Homo sapiens: one gene and its partners. The protein of the gene in region 1 interacts with the protein of each later gene in a biochemical or structural test. Each region holds a gene or a part of one and is shown on either strand. Other genes may lie near its edges.

Region 1 (7,870 bases):
GGTGTGAGCCACCGTGCACGGCTGTCATCATTTTTTCATCAGTCCCATCTTCAATGAAGGTGAATATGTATTATTTCGTGAAATATTTAATAAGAGGCCACTCTGTGCAGCACTCTTCAAGGCATAGAAGATACAACGGTGAACAAAGTAGACAAAAGATTCCTGCGCTCTGGTGGAGCTGACATTCTAGCCATGGAGAATGGGTAATCAACAAACAAATACTGTACATAACGACAATATAGTGCAACAGATGCTGATAGTGAAAAATAAAGTAAACCCAGGAAAGGAAGAGGAGAGCTGTGTAGGTGGTACAGGAAGAGTGCTCAGGGTCTCACGGTACCTTATTGGGAATGGTCAAAGGTGCCTGGAGGAGCCACAGTCCCAAGCAGTAGACTCTGCTCTCTGGTTTCCTTTCTGTATCTTAGCCTTATCATCTTCACTGCCCTGTTAACACTGTGATACTTTCAAATATACTTTTTTTTTTTTGGTCACCTATCATCCCAGATAGATTTTAATATTTTGTCCAACTATAGCTTAAAGTACAATTTGCAGCAGGCACTATAGTGAGGGAACGGGGAAGGTGTGTAGACTGACCAAAAATCCTGGTTACGATGCTTACTAATTTTGTTACCTTAGGCAAATTATTAATCTCTGGGTGTCTTGGTTTCCTCATCTGTATAAGTGAGGATAATAAAAGTAAGTTCTCATTTCATTTTATAGGTTAAATATTTAATGTAAAGTGCTCAGACCTCAAACATTAAGTGTTAGCTATATTTTTCTTCCGTGTGTTCTTTTCTTTTTTTTTTTTTTTTCCTTTTTTGAGATGGAGTTTAGCTCTTGTTGCCCAGGCTGGAGTGTAATGGCGCAATCTGGGCTCCCTGCAACCTTCGCTTCCCAGGTTCAAGTGATTTTCCTGCCTCAGCTTCCAAAGTAGCTGGGATCACAGGCGTGCGCCACCACGCGAAGCTAATTTTGTATTTTTAGTAGAGACGGGGTTTCACCATGTTGATCAGGCTGGTCTCCAACTCCTGACCTCGCGATCAGCCCGTCTCGGCCTCCCAAAGTGCTGGGATTACAGGCGTGAGCCACCGCGCCTGCCCCTTCCATGTGATCTTACCAGAGCTTAAATACTACTATTCTATCTTCTCAAAGTCTCACTTCCGCACAATGGGTTGTGACTTCACTGCAATCCCCTTGCAAGATAATTCAGAAATACCTTAAAAGCCAGGCTCAACATATATTAACACTTATCCATGCTAGAAAGAATTCATACATCCCAAACCAACAGTAACCTCAATCACATTTCTCCAATTTCAGTTGGGTTTAAAAAAAATACATCCAGAAAGCCCAAGTTAAAAATAAAGAGCACTCTCTTAGTTAAGCAGTGAGGGGAGACTGAAAATTAAAAGTAACTTTTAAGGATCAACAGTTTTTGACAGTTATCTTAAGAAAGCATAAAAGATGAACACCACACTGGTAAAGATCCCTTACCTTACAGTGTTGGGAGACAGAGAACAAAGGGAGGGAGATAATATTTTCATAATGAACTGTCCATTATATTAACCTTGCCAAAGAGTCCAACTACTCATTCAGTGTTGAAGGATGTGAATTTTTACTTGCTTAGTAAAATTTAGGTATCATAAAAAATATTAAAATAATATTTTAACTAGAAGCGAAAGTCAGACAGCTTTAGGGAAAAATCAGAGCGACTAGGTGATTGGCCAGTGCTGATGAGGAAAAGAGCGCTAACCTACAGAACAAAGACTCTCATTTCTAATCTATTTCACTACTGAATCAAAAATGTAAAAAACAGCAACAAAAAGGCCAAGCCTTTCAGTACAAGCATCATGCAACTTCTCTCAATTTCTGTCCATCTCGTTGGGAAACGTCATGTGAACTACGCGGGAGTCCCTATCGTCCCATTTCACTGTCTCTAGGGTTACTTCACTCCTTCAACGACAGTGAACACACGGTGTAAAATGGCTCAGTAGCAATTCTTATTTTATCAGCCTTAGTCGGAAATCTGATTCGGAAACCTCAAGCTCCGATCCACATAAATCGCTCCTTCCTCCCAGCAACTTAAGCTGCGGTTACCGCTAAGTCCGGCTCGGCCCCAGCGACAGCAAGGCACTGGACAGGGCATTCCAGCCTCACCCCACCTCACCTCGGCCCTTCCTCCCACGGTCCCTCCCCGCTCTGGCTGTCTTCACCTCCTACACCTCGGTCGAGGCGCTCATCGCCACCCGCGATCAAAAAGGGTTTCCCTTCAGGGAAAGGGGGAAATGAAGGTTCATTTCTGGAAGAATCTGCGCGCCCGGCAGCCGCAAGAGGAGGGAGGAGGGAAGAGTCGGGAAAGGGGCGGGGAGCTCAGCACTATCCATCAAGACATTAGCGCTAGGGGATCGCAAAGTCGCCTTCGGGCCTCCACTGCAGCCTAGAAATTCTCCCACGCACTCCGGGCTGAGGTGGGAATGTGGAATCCAGGCTCCCAAAAATGAGGATGAGACCGGAACTCCCGACTGCCTCGGTCCCGAGGGGGCGGGAAGCGAGAGGAACAAAGCCAGGGCCACTCATGCCCGGGATGGCCGGGCGACCCAGAGGGACACGGGAGGCCCCCTTACCTGCCGTCAGCAGCTGCATGGCGTGAGTGAAGGACGGGTCGAGCGAGTCCTTCTCGGCCATGAGTTCGGGCAGGTACTTGTTCTCTGGCTCCATCTTGACCGAGGCTGTGGCCGAGGGGGGCAGCAGCGGGGTCGGCGCTGGCCCGCCCACTGTCGCGTCGGGACCCGTGGCCGAGGGCGGCAGCAGCGGTGGCGGCTGCGTGGCGGGCGAGGCCCGGGCGCCCCCGCGGGATCCCCCTCCGCCTCCCCGGGACCGGTGAGGCAGCGGCGGCTGCCGAGACGGCGTCTGACGCACCGAGGGGTGGGCACCGGAGGGGTCCATGGAGCCGCTACGGCCCGAAGACCGGCTCATGCGCGCGGCGGGGTCGTCCCGGCGCTGCATCTGGGAGGATGTGCGATCCAAGGAGCGAGAAAGCGACGCGGCAGCGACGGAGGCCCGAGCGGCGGTTGGCGGGGGTGGCAGAGCGGGAGCGGTAGCGACCGAAGCCGACCCGAGCGACCCAGCGAGAGAGAGCACCGGAAATGAGGCGGCGCGCGTGCGCAGCCAGCCACCGGCACCGCCCTTGGGTTTCTCCGCGGAGAACAAAGTCCCCAGTCCGGCCACGGCGCCTGCGCACCGCCGCGGCGTCCGAGAAGTCGCCTCCCGACTCTGGCTTTCCCTCCGCTCCCGCCAGGCCAGAGCTTGATGCGCATGCGCGGGAGGCAGTGGGCTCCGTTCGTTTCGTTTTCCACGTGACTCGGCGCTAGCGGAACACGTGTCTCCTCCCCTTTCTGGCGTGGAGGGGGCGGGAGCTGTGGAATGTCTTTGTCTGCGCGCGGGCCCGCGGAGTGTGGGGCGGGAGACCTGTTACTCGCGGGGCCACGCCCTCTCCAACGGCTGAGCAGTGGAGGGAGGCTGTGGGGAGTGGGGTGGGGGGCGGTCACCGAAGTAAGGAAGTAAAAGACTGCCGAGAGGGTCACGGAAAGGGGAGGGAGAGAGAATTGAGACCGCCTGGGGAGGAAGACAGGAGTGAGACAGACTGCACAGGGAGAAAGGAAGGCTGAGGGAGAGTCTGATGCAGGGGGAAAGTTGGGGAAGGGAAACCTGGAGGGAGAAATTGAGGAAGGACGGCTTGGTGGAAACACTGAAGGCGATTGGAGTACTTGAACTAAGAGGGATGGTTCAGATCAGAGATCTGAAGTCTAGCAAAGAAAAGGGTCCCAGACATCAGGGAACACAAGAAGTTGTTTCCAGTATATATATTTCCAGTATTACATATATTCCAGTCGGTTCTAAAACGGTTGACATTGTTGGTACGGGAAATCTTAAGCAGCATTTTAGCTCTTTTTACATATTTTACTGCTTTTTCTGAATTGTGTTTGTTTTGTTTCGCCGTCATTATTGCCAATTAAGTGTTTCTTCCTTCAAAAAGTGAGGTAGAGACCAGATCCTTAATCCACGTTGGTTGCATCATTAGGATGGCTTCTTCTACCACTCCAGACTTGCTCAAAGAGACCCTTGCCACTACTCTCAAAGGCAAGGTACATAGTGGACAGTCGCCTACGACGTTCTCCACATCCTGGTGTGCTATATGCAAGTGGAGCCTTAGGTCCCTACTTGTCCCATAAGCCATCAAAAGCCTGGTGCCCTCTCTAACTTTCCCTTCCCTCCGCAGATTATTTTCTTCTTCCATTTAAAGCACTCACTCCCATCTCTTTTCCTTCTGGATTAGTTCTCCTAATGAGCCCACACTTTTCAAAAGTCTTTGGGGACCGGTGCGGTGGCTTATGCCTGTAATCCCAGCACTTTGGGAGGCCTAGGTGGGAGGATTACTTGAGGCTAGGAGTTCGAGAGCAGCCTGGACAATATAATGAGACCTCATCTCTACAATAAAAAAAGTTTCCGCCCGGCTTGGTGGCTCATGCCTGTGATCCCAACACTTTGGGAGGCCGAGGTGGGCAAATCACCTGAGGCCAGGAGTTCGAGACCAACTTGGCCAACATGATGAAACCCCATCTTTACTAAAAATATAAAAATTAGCCGGGTGTGGTGGTGCATACCTGTAATCCCAGCTACTTGGGAGGCTGAGGCAGGAGAATTGCTTGAACCAGGGACGCGGAGGCTGCCGTGAGCCGAGATCACGCCACTGCACTCCAGCCTGGGCAACAGAGCGAGACTACGTCTCAAAAAAAAAAAAAAAGGAAAAAAAGGTTTATTTGGAAATTGTCTTCTGAGTGCCTGGAAACTTGATTTTTGGATGTGAAGCTTAGAACCCTTTAACTAGAGAACCTAAAGGCCTTCTTTAAGGGGTTAAGGGAGAGGATTTCCAAATTACCCACAGAAATGAAAACAAAACACGTATCTACATAAATTATATATATATAATATAAAATATAGGCCAGATGCGATGGCTCATGCTTGTAATCCCAGCACTTTGGGAAACCGAGGCGGGCAGATCACAAGGTCAAGAGATCGAGACCATCCTGGCCAACATTGTGAAACCCCGTCTCTACTAAAAATACAAAAATTAGCTGGGTGTGGTGGTGTGCCTGTAGTCCCAGCTACTCAGGAGGCTGAGGCAGAAGAATCGCTTGAACCCAGGAGGCGGAGGTTGCAGTGAGCTGAGATTGCAGCACTGCACTCCAGCCTGGGGGACAGTGCGAGACTCTGTCTTGGGAAAAAAAAGAAAGAAAGAAAGAAATTAGCTGAGTGTGGTGGCGTGCACCTGTTGTCCCCAGCTACTTGAGAGACTGAGGTGGGAAGATTGCTGCTTGAGCCTGGGAAATTGAGACTACAGTGAGCAACGACTGCCCCACTGCACTCAGCCTGGACGACAGAGTGAGACCTTGTCTCAAAAAAAAAAAAAAAAAAAAAAAAAAAAAAAAAAAAAAGGCCAGTGCGGTGGCCCACTCCTGTAATCCCAGCACTTTGGGAGGCCAAAGTGGGTAGATCACCTGAGGTCAGGAGTTCAAGACCAGCCTGGCTAATACAGTGAAACCCCATCTCTACTAAAAACATAAAAAAGTTAGCTGAACGTGGTGGCATGCACCTGTAATCCCAGCTACTTGGGAGGCTGAGGCAGAAGAATTGCTTGAACCCGGGAGGTGGAGGTTACAGTGAGCCGAGATCGCGCCACACTGCACTCCAGCCTGGGCAACAGAGTCAGACTCCGTGTCAAAAAGAAAAAAGAAACGAAAAAATTAAGTGCTGTTGGAGTTCAATGCAGAAGATAGATTTTGGCCAAGGAAGAATAAGTTCCAGGCAAAGGGAAGTGGAATAAATGAGCAGAGATGAGAACGTGGGAAATGTGTTCAGGGAATGGGAGTAATCCAGTGTCAGACTTGAAGGAATAGGTGGGTTGAGAGAGCAACTGCATGAAGAGGGGGGAAGGGGCAAGGAGAATTTACAGTTCCTTTGCAACTCATTTCCACTGCCACCCTTGAAGATCCTTCTTGAGTGGTGGTGTTACAAATGGCTGAAGCGTCCTTGCCCTGTAATGAGATGCCCAAATAGAGATCCCTTGAGCTGAGGCTAATAAAACTTTGATAAAGGTTTGTCTGAGAAGGAGCTGGGTAGTGGTATCTATGGCCTTTCTAGACTAGAATCAACAGTTACTGCATATGTATATCAAAACATGTTGTAGCCATACCTATATACAATTTTAAAAACACTGGAAACAAAACAAAAAATAACCCTCAGTCTTTCTGGGTGCTTGCCAGATCTTTACTTGCTTTCCCTGAGAGTAGGCTGAGCGGGAGAGATGTGCTCTTCTTCCAGGCGAGAACCCTAAAGGTAATCTCAGGCCAAGAGTGGTTGAGGTTGCGGTGTATGTATCCACTAAGTGATGCAGCAGCCTTCTATTTTGGGGGCCCTTCTCAGGGTAGGGAAGAGTAATTTCTGCTCTGAAAGCCTAGAAGTCTGGAGTTTATTTTGTGTTCACCACAGTATGCTGCCCCAGGTCCACCTGAAGGTTAACAACCATGTGAAAAGACTAACGTTGGAGTGGGGCAAATTCAAACAACCCGGCAATGCCTTGTCCTCACTGTGTATCATTTGGAAGACCTCTGAAACTTAGTTTTCTCTTCTATAAAGTGGGGTAATGCCATCTACCTTGAAGGCTTATTGTGAACATTAACAAATATCAGTGTAAACCTCCTGATAGTAGGGCTTATAAACAGAAGTAATCACTATTATACCCTTTAGTACCTGATGAAGATTTGTGGGTGCTTTATGTTGGCTATGGATCTGAAAGTCCTACTCTCTCTCTCCTTTTTTTTTTTTTTTTTTTTTTTTTTGAGATGGAGTCTTGCTCTGTCACCCAGGCTGGAGTGCAGTGGCAGGATCTCAGCTCACTACAAGCTCCACCTCCTGGGTTCACGCCATTCTCCTGCCTCAGCCTCCCGGGTAGCTGGGACTACAGCTCACCACCATGCCCAGCTAATTTTTTTGTATTTTTAGTAGAGACAGTGTTTCACCGTGTTAGCCAGGATGGTCTCGATCTCCTGACCTCATGATCCGCCCGCCTCAGCCTCCCAAAGTGCTGGGGTTACAGGCATGAGCCACCGCGCCTGGCCAAGTCCTACTCTCTAATCTGTATAATTTTCACTGAGTATAGCTAGGCTTGTTTTGGGGGGAGGAGGAGGTTCCAAAAAGAGCAAGTTTCTTCTACCCTTAATCCAGTTACTATGGTATAGGATACAGCAGCAGTGCATAATGGTTCAGATGGAGGTTGGTAGCTCTGCCTCTTACCTGCTGGGTGATTGAGCACAGTGTTTTGCTTTGCTGCATTAGTCAGGATTCTTTAGAGAGACAGAATAAATACAGTATATAGATAGATGTACACATTCAAGAGGGGACTTGTGAGGGCAATTGGTTCACATGATTATGGAGGCTGAGAAGTCCCATTGGAGGCCTTCTGCAAGCTGGAGACCCTGGCAAGCCGGTCGTGTGGCTCAGTCCAAATCTGAGATCCTCAGAACCAAGGAAGCCAGTGGTGTGATGCTTAGAGGATGAAGGCCTGAGAACCCAGGGGCTGCTGGTGTAAGTCCTGGAGTCCAAGGGCTGAAGAGCATGGGGATCTAATGTCTAAGGACAGGAGAAGAAGAGTGTCCTAGCTCCAGGAAGAGAGACAGGAAATCCCTTCTTTGCCTTTTGTGTTCATTCTGGGCCCTAGCCCATTAGCTGGCGCCCGCCCACATTGAGGGCGGATCTGTACCATTCAGTCCACTCACAGGCCACTCTCTTCTGGGAACACACTCACAGACACACC
Region 2 (2,899 bases), on another chromosome or scaffold:
TAGTGTTATTTATTTTTTTAATCCCACTTGTATTATTTTACCTCTAGAGCATCTTGTATTAGGACATGTTATATTTATGCCAGTGGGAAATAAGTTATGGCCAAGTTTTGCAAAAACAGGAAGCAGTGAGATACTTGTTTTTTTCTCCTCACTAAATATCAGTAATTGTCAGGAATGGTATTACCTATTTTCATTTCCTCTTTTCAGCTTTAAGTTTTGTTGATTGGGACACTAAAACTGATGTATACCTGAGGAAAAAATAGAATGTGCTCATGGTTAGGGAAAATTATATTATTTTTAATTTTTTAATTTGTTTTTTAACCAAGTAGGAATTTGGGTGTATGGATAAGAGGCCAATCTGCTTCTGTAGGCTATAGAAGAAAACCAGTTGTATTTTATGGTCATAATTTGTCCCCCTATTATTCTGGAGATTTAAATTTAAGTAAAGTAGCCATCAGTATTTTAATTGAAAAATACTAAAGCCACATAACTGAGTAGGATGTCGTATGATACTTTCAACAAATTCCCTAATGCTGCCTAAGCATATGGATGTTTTAATTCTTTGCTGTTATAAATAGATATCTAATACGCCAGAATTACTGATGGTAAAATTGAAGTTGTGTAACTTGTGAATTTTTTTTATCAATGTTTTAAATATTATTTAAATCTTAAAATCATTTAAAGACTTATGTTGCCACTGGGTGGCAGCCATGGCTTCTCCCACTAAGCAACAGAAGTGACCAAATATAATTAAGACAAATTTTCATCTCTATTACATCTGCTTTTAAAACATTTTAGTTCATATTCTATTATTTTTCTAACTCAGTACTCCTTTGTTGAGGGTAATTATTAGTAGTTAAGTTTTTAATGGAAATAAAAATCATGTATGCTTATCTTTGCTGTAAAATCAAATGAATATAAATTGAGGAAAACTTTAAATTGTTGTAGGATGACTAGTAGTAAACATCATCTTAATTTTTAACATATATTTGATGATGCTTTCCTTTTCTCTGTATGTTTCTGGGTTTTCCCCCAGTCTTCCTTATGAAAAAAATGTATGTTTGTAAAAAGAGAACAATTAATGCTTTGCATCACAGACATAAACTATTCATAGTAAACTGCACTGAGCTGATATTAATAGAGCAGACTTTTGAGAAAGTAGGAGTGTAGTAGCACTGGAAACAGAATGCAAATTTCTGTTCCATAATTAGGTTTATTGTAGCTATAGCGCTCCCAGATAACCCATGTGTGCTAGTAATATCTATTGTGTGCTCTTACTATGGTATAAAAACCTCGCTGGAAGCTACTTATTTTGTACTTAAATATTTTACCAATTTTTAAAAAGTCTTAATCCAATGCTTATACCAGTGACTGTTTTTATAATACTTGAAGTAACTTTAAGAACTGAAACAACCCTGGAAAACTCTACATAGCTAGATAGTAACAATACTTGTATAAGAAACCAAGTTTCCTTATTCCCAGCCTGGTGTCTGTATCGTGACACACTACTCTGTGTATGCTTGGTTTTAGACTAGGAGGAGAGTCCTGGGAAGGGCAATATTACAGAAGTTTTCTTCCACATGAGGAGAATGCTTAGTTTCAAATTTAAATACATGTGTCAGATGGAACCCTGCCTAACTCACTTCTACAAATAACTTCCCCAAAATCTTAGAAGGTTTTTTAGAACATGATATAAGCTTTGTGACAAAAACAAATGCCATTGTGTCCCTTATTTAGTCATAAAACCTTAGGATTCAGCTGAATATATATTCACACATGTATATTACACATATATCACTATACAGTTAACACATGCACCTTGCACTATTAGTGACAAATAATACTGCTAAACAAAATAGGCTTCATGCAATCTATTGCCATTGCTAGAAGAATAAATAGGCCTAGCAGATGGGCAACTTGGGTTGTTAGAATAAGGTCATTCTTGCAGAATATGGCACTTAAATTATCTCCAGCTGTAATGTCCTACCATATAATCCAGAGGTTGCATAGAAGCAGAGTTGTCACAGTCTCTGTAGCACGTTTGTGAGAATTCTCTAGGCAGGCCCAGCCCTTCTCTAGAAGTTTGAATTTCACTCCCACCTTGTTGCTGGGGTACCTTCTTCAGGGTACATCTAAACACAGTGGCCTTATACAGAAATGTTGTTCAACCCACACAGTGCTTTAAAAAATTAATTGCCAACATTTAAAAATCAGGGAGTTTCACATAAAATTCAGACTTCTTGTTTCCCTTTAAAAATGAGAAGCTAATAACATGAGTTGAATTCCCACAAGTCAACAATGAGCTGGAATCTAATATGGATGGTCCTCTTATCTTTACCAGTGCACATGGTGAAAAAATTCAAACAGTATAATAAAGTCTTCTTTCAAGTCAAAATATAGAGACGAATCTCTGAAACGTTTTATTTGGGAAGCAAGAATTGTAATTCAGGGCATATACACAGACAGTAGTTTTTGGTATGTCTAAAGAACAGAGAAGATGGGGAGTTTTATTATAAAGAGAAATGTTACGTATGTTTTGAAAGAAAACTCATTGGTTCTAGATAAGTTTTTGGGAGGTGGCAAGCTCTGATTGGTGTGTGACAGTGATAGGTAAAACCAGTCTTAGAGTCACAGCAGGTCATTTCAGCAGCTACTAGGTAAAACTGGTCTTAGGGTTTACAGTAGTCTGTTTAAGTAGCTGGGCTTGTGGAAAACTGAGTTCTTGGAGCAGCTGCTATGTCCTTCATGTACTTTTTCCCCTTAATGCATTGAATCTGATTTGGTTGGGTATGACAATAATTACCCAATTTGTATAATTAACTTTCACACTCCCAACCCTTATCCCCCTAGTTGAGATCTCCAGATGCAGTTTACTCTCCCTGTTTTTCCTATAACATGG
Region 3 (5,835 bases), on another chromosome or scaffold:
GTGAAGTAGCTCCACTTGAGACTATGATTGGGGTTCAGTTTTCCTCCTCAATTAATATCTTGCTCTTAAAAGACAGTGACATCCACAAGATATGTAGCACAAACTACAGACAAGTGTCCTTCAGATTAACTGAACCATCATTATTTTCCAAATTAATCCCTAAGTTTTTAACTATTTGGCAAGCATGTAACCAATTTGTTGGGCTGACTTAAGGGTGCTGACTTTAAGTAAATGAAAATACCAATTATTAAATGAAAAGCCAATTTTTGAAAAATGTCCGTATAAGATAATATGTGGTAAAATTATTTTTTTCATAAATATACTACAAGTTGAAGCTGAAAGCATGCTACCCTGCAAACATAATTAAAGTTGAGAGTTAGGATTAGATTTGGGTGATTTATTTGAAATGTGAGGCAAGTCCAATATCCTTTTGTTATTAAAGAGAACTTGGCTGTGGCTCCTACTTAACAAATTTTGGCAAACTGAATGCTGTCTTGATCCCCTCCATGCTAAATTTATTTATTGAGTTGCTTGCAGAAATTTCCTTAGCTTCTATATTAGTTGGCAAGGGCTGCCATAACAATACAACACACTGGGTAATTTAAACAACAGACGTTTATTTTTCCGGGGTTCTGGAGTTTCAAAGTCCAAGGTCAAGGTGCTAGCCAGGTTGATTTCTCCTGAGGCCTCTCTCCTGGACTTGTAGATGGCTGCCTCCTCCCTGTGTCTTCACATGGTCTTTCCCCTATACTAGTCTGTGTTCTAATCTCCTCTTATAAGGATACTAGTCATATTGGATTAAGACCTACCCAAATGGCCTCATTTTAACTTAGTTACCTCTATAAAGGCCTTATCTCTAAATATGGTGCTGTCAATTCTGAGGTGTACGCGGGGTTAGGACTTCAACCTAGGAATTTTGGGAGGATGCTGTTCAACCCCTAACAGCCTCAGTAAAGCTTGTTTCAATCATGGTTACAGGATGTGAGGAGCAAAAAGACCACTGCAGTGCTTGACCCTCTGCCAGGTTTCTAAACGGCATGGGTTTCTGTTCTTTTTGTTTTTTTCCACCCTAGGGAGAACTAATGCCGACGTGATGACCGCCCTGTCCCAGGGCTACAGGATGCCCCGTGTGGAGAACTGCCCAGATGAGCTCTATGACATTATGAAAATGTGCTGGAAAGAAAAGGCAGAAGAGAGACCAACGTTTGACTACTTACAGAGCGTCCTGGATGATTTCTACACAGCCACGGAAGGGCAATACCAGCAGCAGCCTTAGAGCACAGGGAGACCCGTCCATTTGGCAGGGGTGGCTGCCTCATTTAGAGAGGAAAAGTAACCATCACTGGTTGCACTTATGATTTCATGTGCGGGGATCATCTGCCGTGCCTGGATCCTGAAATAGAGGCTAAATTACTCAGGAAGAACACCCTCTAAATGGGAAAGTATTCTGTACTCTTAGATGGATTCTCCACTCAGTTGCAACTTGGACTTGTCCTCAGCAGCTGGTAATCTTGCTCTGCTTGACAACATCTGAGTGCAGCCGTTTGAGAAGAAAACATCTATTCTCTCCAAAAATGCACCCAACTAGCTCTATGTTTACAAATGGACATAGGACTCAAAGTTTCAGAGACCATTGCAATGAATCCCCAATAATTGCAGAACTAAACTCATTTATAAAGCTAAAATAACCGGATATATACATAGCATGACATTTCTTTGTGCTTTGGCTTACTTGTTTAAAAAAAAAAAAAAACTAATCCAACCTGTTAGATTTTGCAGGTGAAGTCAGCAGCTTAAAAATGTCTTTCCCAGATTTCAATGATTTTTTTCCCCCTACCTCCCAAAATCTGAGACTGTTAAAACATTTTTCTTCTATGAACACTGCTCAGACCTGCTAGACATGCCATAGGAGTGGCGTGCACATCTCTCTCTCTTCCAGCAGGAGGAGCCCGTGAGCACGCACAGCTGCCCTGTCTGCTCACCCGAAGGCACCGGGCTCACCTGGACCTCCCAGGAAAGGGAGAAGAGCCTCAGAAACTGCTCTGTGTTTAGAAGGAATATTTTTAAGAGTCCAGCTTTTTCATTTCCACAATTTCCTATATCCAGATTTGTTTTGACAATGTAGTTTGGAAGAACTAAGATTCTAATCTCTGAAGAACCTTATAGGGCCTTCTAAAACATAAGAGTTTCCTTTGTTGCTTCAAATATTTGAACATTATGTTAAAGATCAAGTATTAATTTTAGTTGTACTCTAGAAAGCTAAAGTGCCACATTCGGGGCTATTTTTATGATTCAGCAATCTTTTCTAAATTGTGTAGCATGTGTATGAGACTATTTATACCCAAGGATATGAAGGAACATAAGTGACTACAAGGCTCTAATAAGCCACGGTGGCAGGAGGTTCAAGCGGTTCTGTTCACTAAATTTTTCTCCTGTAAGCTTTGAATGGAAACTTCTGTATCACATGATGTGTTTCACTTATGCTGTTGTGTATATACCTAATATTTCTATTTTTGATTTTATTTTAATACACCTCGTCCAATAACATCTCAAGCTTTTTATTTGCATTTACATTTTCAGCTGTGGTCAGTGTAAAAATTGGTCATCAGCTGGGGGCGGGGTGGTTAGAAGTGATTCAACAGAGCTACATGCTTTAAACTTGCCCAAGTTCTACCTCCTTCCTTTGAACATTTCAGATTGGAGAACCAAGGAGTTGATTGCCTGAACACCTGAACATCCGTTTATGGGGGCCAGATAGAATTTGTTTTCAAATAGGCTTAACAGGCATCATTAAAATTTCATTCTGTGTGTTTTGTTTAGGCTTGAGGTGCTTAGAAGATGGGATAAAATATTCTACTTTTTTCTAAATTTTAACTTTGTTTCCTATGTGATTTTTTTAAATGTCCTTTCTAAAATATTCTAAAATTATTGATTCACAAGTGCCATGTTCAGAACTATAGAATATTACTGTTACATAATGTCTGCACAGCTGGTCCCTTGATTCAGTGGTAAGGTTTTTGTGTACACCCCCCTGCTTGCATTTTATTTCAGAACCACAAGTATTACCCAATATGTTACATGGAGAGGAACTATAAAGAATCCCTAAGGCAAAAAGAAGTCTCTAGAAAATGACTAGAGGTTTTTTTTTTAGCATAACAAATTTATTTAAAGAAAATTATTAAATTTATCTTCGCCTTGTTTTGCTTCTCCCAGTTCCTCCTCTTCTTGCCATTTTCCACTTGTCTTTCCCTCCCAATCAAGCCTGTGATCCTTACCTCCATGTGGGCCCTTCACCAGCTTGGGCCTCATCTCTGGTGTCCAGCATGTGTGGAAGTCACACGTTCCCTTGATGAACAGCACACACAGTCTCCTTACTTAGCTATAGGTTTCCAGCCTCCCTGTGACAGACAGGCATAATGAGGGGCTGAATAGGTGTTTGTAGCATTTTCGGGTATCCAGTGGTGTGCAAAATGGCTCATGTCATCACACCTCAGGTTATTGTAGAGAACTGGAAAGACAGAATCCATACTCCCTACCGCCAAGATTCTGACTTAGCTGTTGTGCAGCGGGAGATGTATGTCAGTCTATTTTAAAAGCTTCTCCAGTCAGCTAGACACAGTGGCTCATGCCTGTAATCTCAGCACTTTGGGAGGCTAAGGCAGGAGGATCGCTTGAGCTCAGGAGTTAGACACCAGCCTGAGCAATATAGCAAGTCTCTACAAAAAATTTTAAAAATTAGCTAAGTGTGGTGGCACATACCTATGGTCCCAGCTACTCAGGAGGCTGAGGTGGGAGGATTGCTTGAGCCCAGGAAGTCAAGGCTGCAGTGAGCTATGATCGTGCCACTGCACTCCAGCCTGGGCAAGAGTGAGACCCTGTCTCAAAAAAAAAAACCAAAAAAACAAAAAAACCCTTCCCTGGTGAATATAATGTATGCTCAGTCTTGAGAGTCACCATTTGGTTTGACCCATATTACAAAGCCCAGCCTTCTTTTTCCTCAGATGGTTTCATTTCTCAAAGGGGAGTGGAAGAGAAGGAAGGAGGAAAAAAACGTGCCTTCCTTCCTGGTGAACATGAAGCTCACTGAACCTAAAGGAGACTCACAGGCTAGAAACCAGTGTCCTTAGTAGTAGGGGCCACCTGGGGCTTCCGTGGCTTCTCCAGGCATACCTCCTGAGGTTCCACAGAATCCCCTTGCAGAAAGTACTTCTGATGAGCCACTGGGAACGTGTACTGTCCAAGCCCCCTTCTAGGGGAAATTCACTGCCACAGAAGCCAGCAGCCCTGGCTGTCCCAAGGGTGCATAAAAGGATAATAACTAAAAGGAGGGAATTAATTTTGTTGCCTACACCAGGGATAGATCGAGGGCACTGAAAGCATCATAAGTATAAACTCATCTCCACGTCAGCTTGTGGAGTCTGCTTTCTCGCTCTCTCTTTTTTTTTTTTTTTTGACAGAGTCTCACTCTGTCACGCAGGCTAGAGTTGCAGTGGTGCGATCTCAGCTCATTGCAACCTCCCCCTCTCTGGTTGGAGCGATTCTTCTCCTGCCTCAGCCTCCCTAGTAGCTGGAACTACAGGCACACACCATCTCGCCTGGCTAATTTTTGTATTTTTAGTAGAGATGGGGTTTCACCATGTTAGCCAGGCTGGTCTCGAACTCCTGACCTCAGGCGATCCGCCTGCCTCGGCTTCCCAAAGTGCTGGGATTACAAGTGTGAGCCACTGTGCCCGGTCGGGGTCTGCTTTCTCTTTATTCCCCGTCCTCTCACAAACTACATCCAGGGGCGGTAGCTGCTAAAAGGACTCAATTCTGCAACCTCAGCTTCTGACACCTTCAAATAAATTAAATGCTGGTCCTAGGGCTCGCTCCCCAGCTCTTCTGATGTCACTGCCAGGTTCCACAGCCAGTTGTCGGACATCTCCTGCTTCCTCAGCCAAGAACACCTCTCAGATGAGATCAAACCGCCCAGCTTTCCTCTTAGCATCTTCCTTTATTTTCCACTTCTGGCTGGTGGAAGAGAGATCGTAGTTCTCTATTCCCTACATTTTAACTCCACGAATATTTTAGATTAAGTGAAGTCTTGCTGTTCTTCCTGATGGAAATGGTAATTATAAACATACAAAGATACCCATACACACATTCTTTACTCAGGGCCCTCTTGTGCTTTGGCAAATGATAAAAATTATCTCTAACTCACACAACGACCCTGGAAGATCTGGACAATGCTATCACTATTTCACAGCTGAGAGATCGGGAGCATTTAAAGCCACAGAAGGAATAGATTGGCTTCGCTTCATATTGTTTCCTTGTGAAATAAAACCAGTGAAACACCTTTGTGTAGAATCTCCCTGACTCAGCTGAGTGTTCTGAGTAAGCAAGGGTATTACTTACAAGATGCACCATTTGAGCCCACACAGATGGGAGGGGAAATTTTTCCTTAAGTAATTTTATTTGGGTAGAAAAGTAATGCAAGAATTTAACTTACCATTCACACTTTTAAAGACAATTTGTAGAGACTACACTTCAGAATAAAATGTTTTGGCCAGCTACAGTGGCTCACACCTGTAATCACAATACTTTGGAGGGGCTGAATCAGGACGATCACTTGAGGCCAGGAGTTTGAGACCAGCCAGGACAACATTATGAGACCCTGTCTCTACAAAAAAAAAAATTAAGTTTCAGTAGCATTTATGTTCCATTTCATAACATGAATGTTACTAAAACTGATAAAAATTTTATCCTGAAAAGTTTTAACTTGATAGACGTGTAAGAGGAAAGCCTTCCAATTTAATTTCCTGTGTGCTGATAAATCTATTAAATACTTCAAGTCAG

Evidence for each region. Proteins that work in one complex are often made in the same cells at the same time.
Region 2: the proteins of KHDRBS1 (region 1) and NCK1 form a complex in vitro, tested with the Homo sapiens proteins (3 studies listed by BioGRID, with this or other methods).
Region 3: the proteins of KHDRBS1 (region 1) and LYN form a complex in vitro, tested with the Homo sapiens proteins (3 studies listed by BioGRID and IntAct, with this or other methods).

The regions. Positions count from the first base shown.
Region 1 is NC_000001.11:32,009,129-32,016,998, reverse strand, and holds the start of KHDRBS1 (KH domain-containing, RNA-binding, signal transduction-associated protein 1), read right to left. Parts: upstream 3,132-7,870; 5' UTR 3,004-3,131; coding exon 2,622-3,003; intron 1-2,621. UniProt on the Homo sapiens protein: Recruited and tyrosine phosphorylated by several receptor systems, for example the T-cell, leptin and insulin receptors. Once phosphorylated, functions as an adapter protein in signal transduction cascades by binding to SH2 and SH3 domain-containing proteins.
Region 2 is NC_000003.12:136,949,208-136,952,106, forward strand, and holds the end of NCK1 (SH2/SH3 adapter protein NCK1), read left to right. Parts: 3' UTR 1-2,399; downstream 2,400-2,899. UniProt on the Homo sapiens protein: Adapter protein which associates with tyrosine-phosphorylated growth factor receptors, such as KDR and PDGFRB, or their cellular substrates. Maintains low levels of EIF2S1 phosphorylation by promoting its dephosphorylation by PP1.
Region 3 is NC_000008.11:56,008,835-56,014,669, forward strand, and holds the end of LYN (tyrosine-protein kinase Lyn), read left to right. Parts: intron 1-1,073; coding exon 1,074-1,276; 3' UTR 1,277-5,335; downstream 5,336-5,835. UniProt on the Homo sapiens protein: Non-receptor tyrosine-protein kinase that transmits signals from cell surface receptors and plays an important role in the regulation of innate and adaptive immune responses, hematopoiesis, responses to growth factors and cytokines, integrin signaling, but also responses to DNA damage and genotoxic agents.